Linked DNA regions of Homo sapiens: region 1 is linked to region 2. Evidence: fine-mapped expression QTL. A gene starts in region 2. The other region holds a variant in brackets. All regions are shown on one strand. Distances are between the middles of the regions.

The links. PIP is the estimated chance that this variant, and not a neighbour inherited with it, causes the effect.
Region 1: its variant is fine-mapped to the expression of FANCG in whole blood (TOPMed, PIP above 0.99).

The regions. Positions count from the first base shown.
Region 1 is chr9:34,972,409-34,976,797 of GRCh38, forward strand. It overlaps PHF24 (PHD finger protein 24), which reads left to right. Exons shown (of 8, transcript NM_015297.3): 3 at 1-123; 4 at 3,744-3,822; 5 at 4,127-4,332. Among named protein-coding and RNA genes, the nearest start is that of DNAJB5-DT, 15 kb to the right of the region's middle. The variant T/C (reference allele first, on the strand shown) is at 2,569.
Region 2 is chr9:35,077,642-35,081,966 of GRCh38, forward strand. It overlaps FANCG (FA complementation group G), which reads right to left and starts at 2,301. Exons shown (of 14, transcript NM_004629.2): 1 at 1,800-2,301; 2 at 1,510-1,600; 3 at 964-1,095; 4 at 500-702. The coding sequence starts at 1,883. RefSeq lists enhancers at 1,323-1,930, 3,147-3,753 and a silencer at 2,006-2,171.

The DNA.
Region 1 (4,389 bases), 110 kb before region 2:
AGGGTCTGCACCAGGGTTTTCCATGATGGCTGCCTGCGCCGCATGGGCTACATCCAAGGAGACAGTGCAGCGGAGGTGACGGAGATGGCCCACACAGAAACAGGCTGGAGCTGCCACTACTGTGTAAGTCTGGACTGCAGGGACAGCAGAGGACTTGGCACTTTTCCTGGAGGCCCGGTCTTAGAACACTTGATTTTAGGCAGTGACCTAAAGAATTTTCCAATGGGCTGGGCGCGGTGGCTCATGCCTGTAATCCCAGCACTTTGGGAGGCCAGTGCCGGAAGATCACGAGGTCAAGAGATTGAGACCATCCTGGCCAACATGGTGAAACCCCATCTCTACTAAAAATACAAAAATTAGCTGGGCGTGGTGGCACGCGCCTGTAGTCCCAGCTACTCGGGAGGCTGAGGTAGGAGAATCACTTAAACCCAGGAGGCGGAGGTTGCAGCGAGCCGAAATCGCGCCACTGCACTCCAGCCTGGCGACAGAGCGAGACTCTGTCTCGAAAAAAAAAAAAAAAAAAAGATTTTTCCAATGGTACATACAAGAGACCTAGAGCTAGGATGGGGTTTCTCAACCTCAGTACATTTTAGGCTGGCTAGTTACTTGTTTGAGGGGCCAAGTGCATTGTAGGATGTTTAGCGGCACCCTGGCCTTAATCCCCTAGATGCCGGTAGCATACATCTCAATGTGAAGGTAGCAAAATCACCCCCGGTAGAGAACCTCTGAGCTAGGAGATTGACTGGGGCCTAATTACTCAAAAGTAATTCTGCTTGGAGCAGTTCTTTCTCTAATAGTCTATAGTTGTCATTCATTGTATCCATATGAAAACTAACCTGAGATCCTAACCAGCTTGCTTCCAGTAGGGGTAGATTCTATCACAGGAAAACTTCCTAGGCCTGAGATCCTCACTCAGCCTGCCACCTGACTCATAAGCATTTGCTCTTCCTCTTTGAAGTGGTTATTATGTGAATTAAATGACAAAGCTCTATTGATTCAGAACTTCGCAAATTATATATAAATGCCTTCTAACTTTTAATGAAGGACAGAGTCTAAGGTTTCCATTGAAAGCCAGATTTATATCCATTTCTCACTACACCTGAATAGAGTTCAAGTCTTGCCTTATTGATCTGTTGTCCTGCAGATATCGTCATTGTTTATTGATTTCAGAGTGAGGAGCACCTGCTGATCCCCCCTTCTTCCTGCTGCTTAGACGAAAGCAGAGATGTGCCACTTTCTAACAAATAACTCTTCCTCTATGGCTTGTTATGGAACAGCTATTTTCAGCCACTGAAACACCTGTCCCCATGGAGTACACTGCAGCAGACCCTGCTGTACCGGCGACCTTCTCTAGTGCCTGTCACCCCTTCCAAATGCCATCCTTTCATCTCGGCCACTCTGCTTTGCGGTGTGCTGCTGCTATAGGACTGGGGTGAAGGGGTCACCTCCCTAACCCCCAGGAACACACTGCTCCCTCCCCAGCTTCCTGACACAGTCCTACCATCATTGCCACCATGCTCCACTGGGCTTTTTACAGAGCCTCCTTCCAAGTACCTCTCCTTTCTTTCCTTCCCTTCACAGCCAACAAATCTTCTTCTTCTTTTTTTTCTTTTTATGAGACAGGGTCTCACTGTGTCACCTGGCTGAAGTGCAGTGGTGCGATCGTAGCACTGCAGCCTTGAACTCCTAGACCTAAGCAATCCTCCTGCCTCAGCTTCCTCAGTAGCTGGGACTACAGGCACAAGCCATTGCACCTGGCCCCACAGCCAAACTTCTTAAAAGAATTTCACCATCTCCTATGGTTTTTCAACCACCTATCATATAATCTGACATCTGCATCCATCATTCTGCAGAACTGTTGCTTCCTAAGGTCACCAGTCACCTCCTAATTGTCAAGTCCACTGACCTTTTCTGAGGCATCTTCTTACTTGATCTCTCTGAAGTATTTATTACTTCTTTATTCCTCTCTCTTTTCTTTAGGATTTAAGTATTTTTATGAGAATTATTGCATAAGATATGGAAATGAGAGAAAATAGAAAGTCAATAAAATCCCACCTCAGTGGTGTAACCACCGTTAACATTACCTCCCACATTCTGCAGCTGTCTTTGCTTGGTATCCAGTACCTTCTTCTCTACTGATGCTCTTCCAGCCTTAGTCTCTGACCATTCTTTCTCAATGCCCTTTGTTAGTTTCTTGTCTCAGTCCTGTTTCTCAGGGTTCTGTTGTTTAATACTCTTCTTTTCTCACTGCGCCCTCTTTGGTGACTTCATCTACAGCCACCATCTAAACACTAATGACTCCTATTTCTGTGTGTCCAGACCTAAATTTCCTGTCTCTTGCACTTATCCACCTTGATATCTCACAAGTACTTCACACTCATCATGCCCCAAAATGAACTCATCTTTGCCCCCAAACCTGCTCTTCCTCCACTCCTTATCTCTGTGAATAGTAATACCATGCCCCAGTTACCAATTCCAGTTCAATCTCTCCCTCATGCCTCACATCCAGTGAGTCATCAGGTCCTGATGATGCTGCCTCTAATATCTCTCTTCCCTTCTTCATTCTCA[T/C]GTCTCAGTTTAGCTGCTCATCATTTCTTGCCTGGACTGTTGCGGCAGCCCCCAACTGCTCTCCACACCTCCAGACTCTGCCGCTCTAATCCATCTTCCACACAGCAGCCAGAGATCTGACCACGGCACTCCCCACTTGAAAACCCTTTGGTGGCTCCCTTTTGCCCTCAGAATAAAGGCCTAATTTGAGGGGCTCGATAAAGGGTATTGGAGGTACTTCATAGTAGGCCCCCTCCTTCCCTCACACACACACTCACATGTACTCCAAACCTCAGCCACACTGAACATCTCACAGTGTTACACACCACTGTGGCGCCCAGTGTTTACTAGGTGCTCAGTAGGTGTTTATTGAAAGTATGGTTTGAAAGAAAAATACAACTATTATATATTAGTTTTTAAAAAGTGTTATGGAAGAAAAAGAATGGTTTGAGTTCTTTATGAAATCCACGTATGAATACTCATGAAATATCTGCTCTTGTACTTTGCGGGTATCTCAGAGGAAGAAAATGACCTTGTACTAGAAAGGATCTTTGATAGTTTAAAGACTGTATGGTAACGTCAACACAATAAGATATTGGTGCTCCTTTGGAATTAAAACTTCTGTGGCACTACAAAAAAACTCATTTGGCTTTAGGAGCCTTGTAATAATGGCATCTTTTAAAACCATTCTGGGGTTATTTAAAGTGATACAACCCACTTGGAGCAGAGCTAGGATTAAACTTTTTTTTTTTTTAACTAAAATACATTTTTAGCACAGCCTAACACAGAAGCCAAGTAGATAAAAGGGATGGAGATGGAGCCGCTCTGCTTGATGGAGATAGGGATTCACAACCTGCCTACTCACTAGCCCCCTTATTCCCTGCAGCAGCTTCCTAAGGCACTTCCAAGAAATCCCTAGGTTAGCTCAGAGGAGAAAACCACTGTTTTAGTAAAGGGACTCAGTGCTGGAGTCAGGATATCTGGGTTCTTGGGGAAGATTCTGCCCCAGAGTAAAGACAACTCTGGCCAAGTCCTTTCTCCTCTCTGGGGCCTCAATCTCATTGATTGTGAATAGGAGGCTGGGATTAGATGATCTTGGAACTGCTTTCCAGTTGAAATTCTATTTCTAGCCCCCTTGACCCTGGCCTTTCTTACTGGCCTGTATGGCCACCGACTCAGCTCTTCCTTATTTTCAGGACAACATCAACTTGCTGCTTACTGAGGAGGAAATGTATAGCCTCACGGAGACCTTTCAGCGGTGTAAAGTCATCCCTGGTAAGGTTGGGTGGTGCTGCATGGATGGAGAGGGGCCGGGCAGATTTCTCCTTCAGGCTTTCTAGAATGAACCATGAAAGGAGTGTTCCATATTTAGTGGGTAGAGGGTAAATGAGTCCTTGTTCCTGAGTTGTTGGCCAGCAGAGTCACCTATCCCTGTCACAGCCTGGGTGACCCTGGCCATGGGAGGCAGAGACTTAGCAAGAGCTGTGGGTTTGGGGGCCCCGAGGGTGCCCTGGAGGTGATGGAGGTGCCCTGAGGCTGAGGAAGGATGGGCATGGCTAGCACGGGGTGCCTCCCACAGATTGCTCCCTGACACTGGAGGACTTTCTGCGTTACCGCCACCAAGCAGCCAAGCGGGGGGACCGTGACAGGGCCCTGAGTGAGGAGCAAGAAGAGCAGGCGGCCCGCCAGTTTGCTGCCCTGGACCCTGAACATCGAGGCCACATAGAGTGGCCTGACTTCTTGTCCCATGAGTCCCTCCTGCTTCTGCAGCAGTTGCGTCCCCAGGTGAGGGCCAGTTGGGGCAAATGTTCCTGGGATACTGGGTGACAAGGGCCTGGGAGG
Region 2 (4,325 bases):
CTATTCCAGCGTGCCTCCTCACTCAGGGCAAGGACCATATTTGAGTTACTAATAAGGAGACTAAGGCTGAGAGCTGACTTGAGCAAGATCACAAGAGCCCTATCCCTATCCAAAAAAAAATTTTTTTTTTTTTTGAGACAGGGTCTCCCTCTGTCACCCAGGCTGCAGGGCTGGAGTGCAGTGGCGTGATCATAGCTCACAACTCACTGTTGCCTCCACCTCTTGGGTTCAAGTGATCCTCCTACCTCAGCCTCCCAAAGTGCTGAGATTACAGGTATGAGCCACCATGCCTGTCCAATTTTTAAAAAACACTCCTAAGAGAATCCCCACAATGAGAGACCAACCAGGGCAAGGTCACCCAAGAGTCCCAGAGAGAATCCAGGTTTTCCGACCACCAACCCAGCCGCCTGTCCAGTACATGATGATGCTACTGCAGCTGGAGAGAAAGGAGGAGGAAGGAAGGAGGAGACCCTCAGCTTCAGGTCACTTTCCCTATTACCTGGCTGCCATTCAGGGTCTCTAGTAACAAGGCCAGGTCCCCAAGACGGTCAGCACTCAACCAGAGGGCAGCCTGCAGGCCAACCAGGCGGTGCAGGGCAGACAGCAGCTCCGGCAGAAGGCAGGAAGCACGAAGGACAGAGTCCCACAGCTCCCTGAGCCCCTGTTCCAACCTGGGCCCCTGCTGCTCCTGTGTCTCCAGCACTGTAGAGTATACACACACACATAGACACACACACAGCTGAAGTAGCACCTCATCCTCCATCTCCCCACACACTCTGGCTTTCCTCTCCTGCAGGACCCCAAAGGTCACAATAATAATACCTCAACCTGGTCTGAAGAGCACAGAGAAGGGCACCTCTCTCCATGGAGGTGACAGATGTTGTTTATCCTCCCATCTCCCTGCAATAACTTAAACCCAGACTGAAGATGGCAGGGGAATCAGGGACAATCTCTGGCCCTCACCTCTCTCTAGGCTCCGCTGGATATCCTGGGCCTGATCCTCTGTGAAACCCTGGGCCAAGCTTGCCCTCAGGATAATGAAGTTGCAGGTGACAGTCAGCTCCAAGGGAAGAACAGGAACAGCTGCAGGGAGCCCTGGAGCAACAATGTTGGTCTTACAGACTGCTCCCCCATGGAAGATCCTCCAAATAAAATCCCAACTCAGAGATCACCCCACTCCAACCAAAACAGCTACAATAAAGAACCCACCCTCCAGCCAATTAGCTAAGGATTTAAAAAAAGAACCCAACCTTTGGACAGAGAGTCTGGAAAGGGCAAAAAAGTTATCCAGATCAGACCATCTTGGAAACCATTTTTCAAATGCCACTCTGTGAGTGTGTAAGGAAGAGAGGGATTTGCCTGTACAAAGATGATTCCACTCCAGTCTCCTCTGTGCCTTAAACAGGACTCCCTGCCCCGAGTAATTATATCGATCCCAAAAACGCAGGAGCGGATGTTTCTCTGGCTATGGAAGAGGGGAACTGACCATCCTGGGGAGGACCCGCCTACCTTGCAGACTATGGAGGAGCCCTCTGAGCCCTTCCAGTGCATCCTGAGCCAACTGCTGTCGCCTCAGAGTCAGACCGGAGTTCTGAGCCACCTGCCACATGAGGGAGGGGTTGTCACTGAGGATCAATCCTTTTTTCTCCCCTTGCAGCAGTGGCAAGGGATGCATTCTCCAGTCATTTCTGGCTCTTTGGTCAAGCTCAGTCCCTCCCCATCGGTTGGGGTAAATCCACTGCAAACCCGCTTTCAGGGATCTTGAGGCTGCAAACCGAGGGTGCCAGCAACCGTGTTACCTTGGCCTGTCGAACGAGCCGGTCATTCTTTTCCCTCCACAGGTCCAGGCAGCTGGAGCCCACAGAGGTGGTCTGGCGGGACATGGTGGCCGAGGCTGGGCCCGGAGACCAGAAGCGGACTTAGGAAGGGTGAAGCTGGCCTGCCCAAGCTCCCAACCCCAGCGGGGAGGGGCCTGGGCACTTCTGCACCCCGCCGAGCTCCCCTGCTTCTCTCGGGGTCCCAATCCACCCGCCCAGGCTTTCCAGGACAGATGGGACGCTCTCTCCCCGCGGCCCGCCGGGCTCTCAACCTCGCCTCTGGTTGGCCGGGTCTGCGAAGCTCTGGGCTGCGGTTGGTCCTCTTGAAGAGTTAGTTCCCGCGGGAAACTCGGGGAGGAAACGAGTCAGCAACCCCAAACAGGCTTAGGCGGGCTAGAAGCCGGGGTCGTGTCTGACTGGGGCAGTCGCACGGCCGGCGGTGCGGCCCGCTCGGCTCTCGCGGAGGCCACAGCCTCGAGAAAGGGTGGGCGGGAGCGAGTTTCGGCCCCACAGTCCGTGGCTCGGCCCTTCCTCGCTGCCACACCCCCAGGTCCTCCTGGGTTCCCGCTTCCACCGAGGGCCGACTGCGAGGTGCATGCTGGGAGTCGTAGTACCGCACCGGGGCGGAACAGCTCCGCCCCGGCGGATGGTGTTTCCAGAAAGCGGTAACTGGAGACGAGGGCGCTCCGTAATCGTCCATCCTTTCTCTGCTCACTGTCGAGCACCAACACGCTCACCAAGGTCGGCTTTCTACCGCGTGTAGTCTGCTGGCAGTGCCGCTCTGTACTTGCACTGCTCAAAAGTACCTGCCCAATCATTTCAAATTAAATGGAGCTAGGAGAATTGAATATCCATATGCAAAAAAAAAAAAAAAAAAAGACAGGAAAGAAAAGAACGCGACCATACATACGTACATAAAATCAACTCAATGGATCACAAACTAAATATAAGAGCCAAAAATATAAAACTTCTAAAAGAAAACGTAAAGCAGCCTAACTAACATGGTGAAACCTTCTCTACAAAAATACAAAAATTAGCAGGGCGTGGTGTCGTGCGCCTGTAATCCCAGCTACCCCGGAGGCTGAGGCGGAAGAATCGCTTGAACCCGGGTGGCGGAGGTTGCAGTGAGCCGACATCGTGCCATTGCACTCCAGCCTGGGTGACAGAGTGAGACTCCGTCTCAAAAAAAAAAAAAAAAGAAAACGTAAGAGAACAGCTTTATGACCTTGGGTTTGGCAACAAGTTGTTAGACACAGCACTAAAAGCTTGTACAATTTAAAAAAAAGTTAACTTTATTAAAATTAAAAACTCTTGTACTACAAAGACATCATTAAGAAGTCATACGCTGGGGCCGGGCGCCGTGGCTCACGCCTGTGATCCCAGCACTTTGGGAGACCGAGGCGGGCGGATCACGAGGTCAGGAGATCGAGACCATCATGGCTAACACGGTGAAACCCCGTCTCTACTAAAAATACAAAAAATTAGCCGGGCGATGTGGCGGGCGCCTGTAGTCCCAGCTACTCGGGAGGCTGAGGCAGGAGAAAGGCGTGAACCCCGCGGGCCAGAGCCTGCAGTGAGCCGAGATCGCCCCACTGCACTCCAGCCTGCGCAACAGCGAGACTCCATCTCAAAAAAAAAAGAAAAGAAAAGAAAAGAAAAGAAGAAAAATCATAGGCTGGATGTGGCTCATGCTGTAATCCCAGCACTTTGGGAGGCTGAGGCTGGAGGATTCCCTGAAGCCAGGAGTTCAAGACCAGCCTAGGCAACAAAGATGGTGTCTTTTGTAGAGACATTATCTCTACAAAAAATTTAAAACATTAACCCTGGCACAATAACACACCTGTAGACCCAGCTACTTGGGAGGCTGAGGTGGGAGGAGCCCTTGAGCCTAGGAGTTCCAGGTTGCAGTGAGCCATGATCACACCACTGCCCTCCAGCCTGAGTAACAGAGTGAGACCCTGCCTCAAAAAAAGAAAGGTCACAGTCACAGAGTGGGAGAAACTACTTGCTAATTATATACCTCATAAGGGACTGGTATCCCTAACACATAAAAACTCCCAAAACTCAAGAAAAAGATTTTTAAAAACAATCTTAGCTGGGTGTGGTGGTTCATGCCTGTTATCCCAGCACTTTGGGAGGCTGAGGTGGGAGGATCATTTGAGCCTCAGAAGTTTAAGACCTGCCTGGGCAACATAGCAAAACCCCACCTCTACAAAAAAAATACAAAAATTAGCTGGGCATGGTGGCACACACCTGTAGTCCCATCTACTCGGGAAACTTAGGTGGGAGGATCACCTGAGCTCAGGGATGTCGAAGCTGCAGTGAGCCATGATTGAGCCACTGCACTCCAGCGTGGGCAACAAAGTGAGACCCTGTCTCAAAACAAAACAAAAAACAATTTTAAGATGGACCAAAAAAAAAAAAAAAGACATTTTACCAAAAAAGATCTACTAATGGCTAAGAAACACATAAAAAGATGCTCGGCATTATTAGCTATTAGAGAAACAC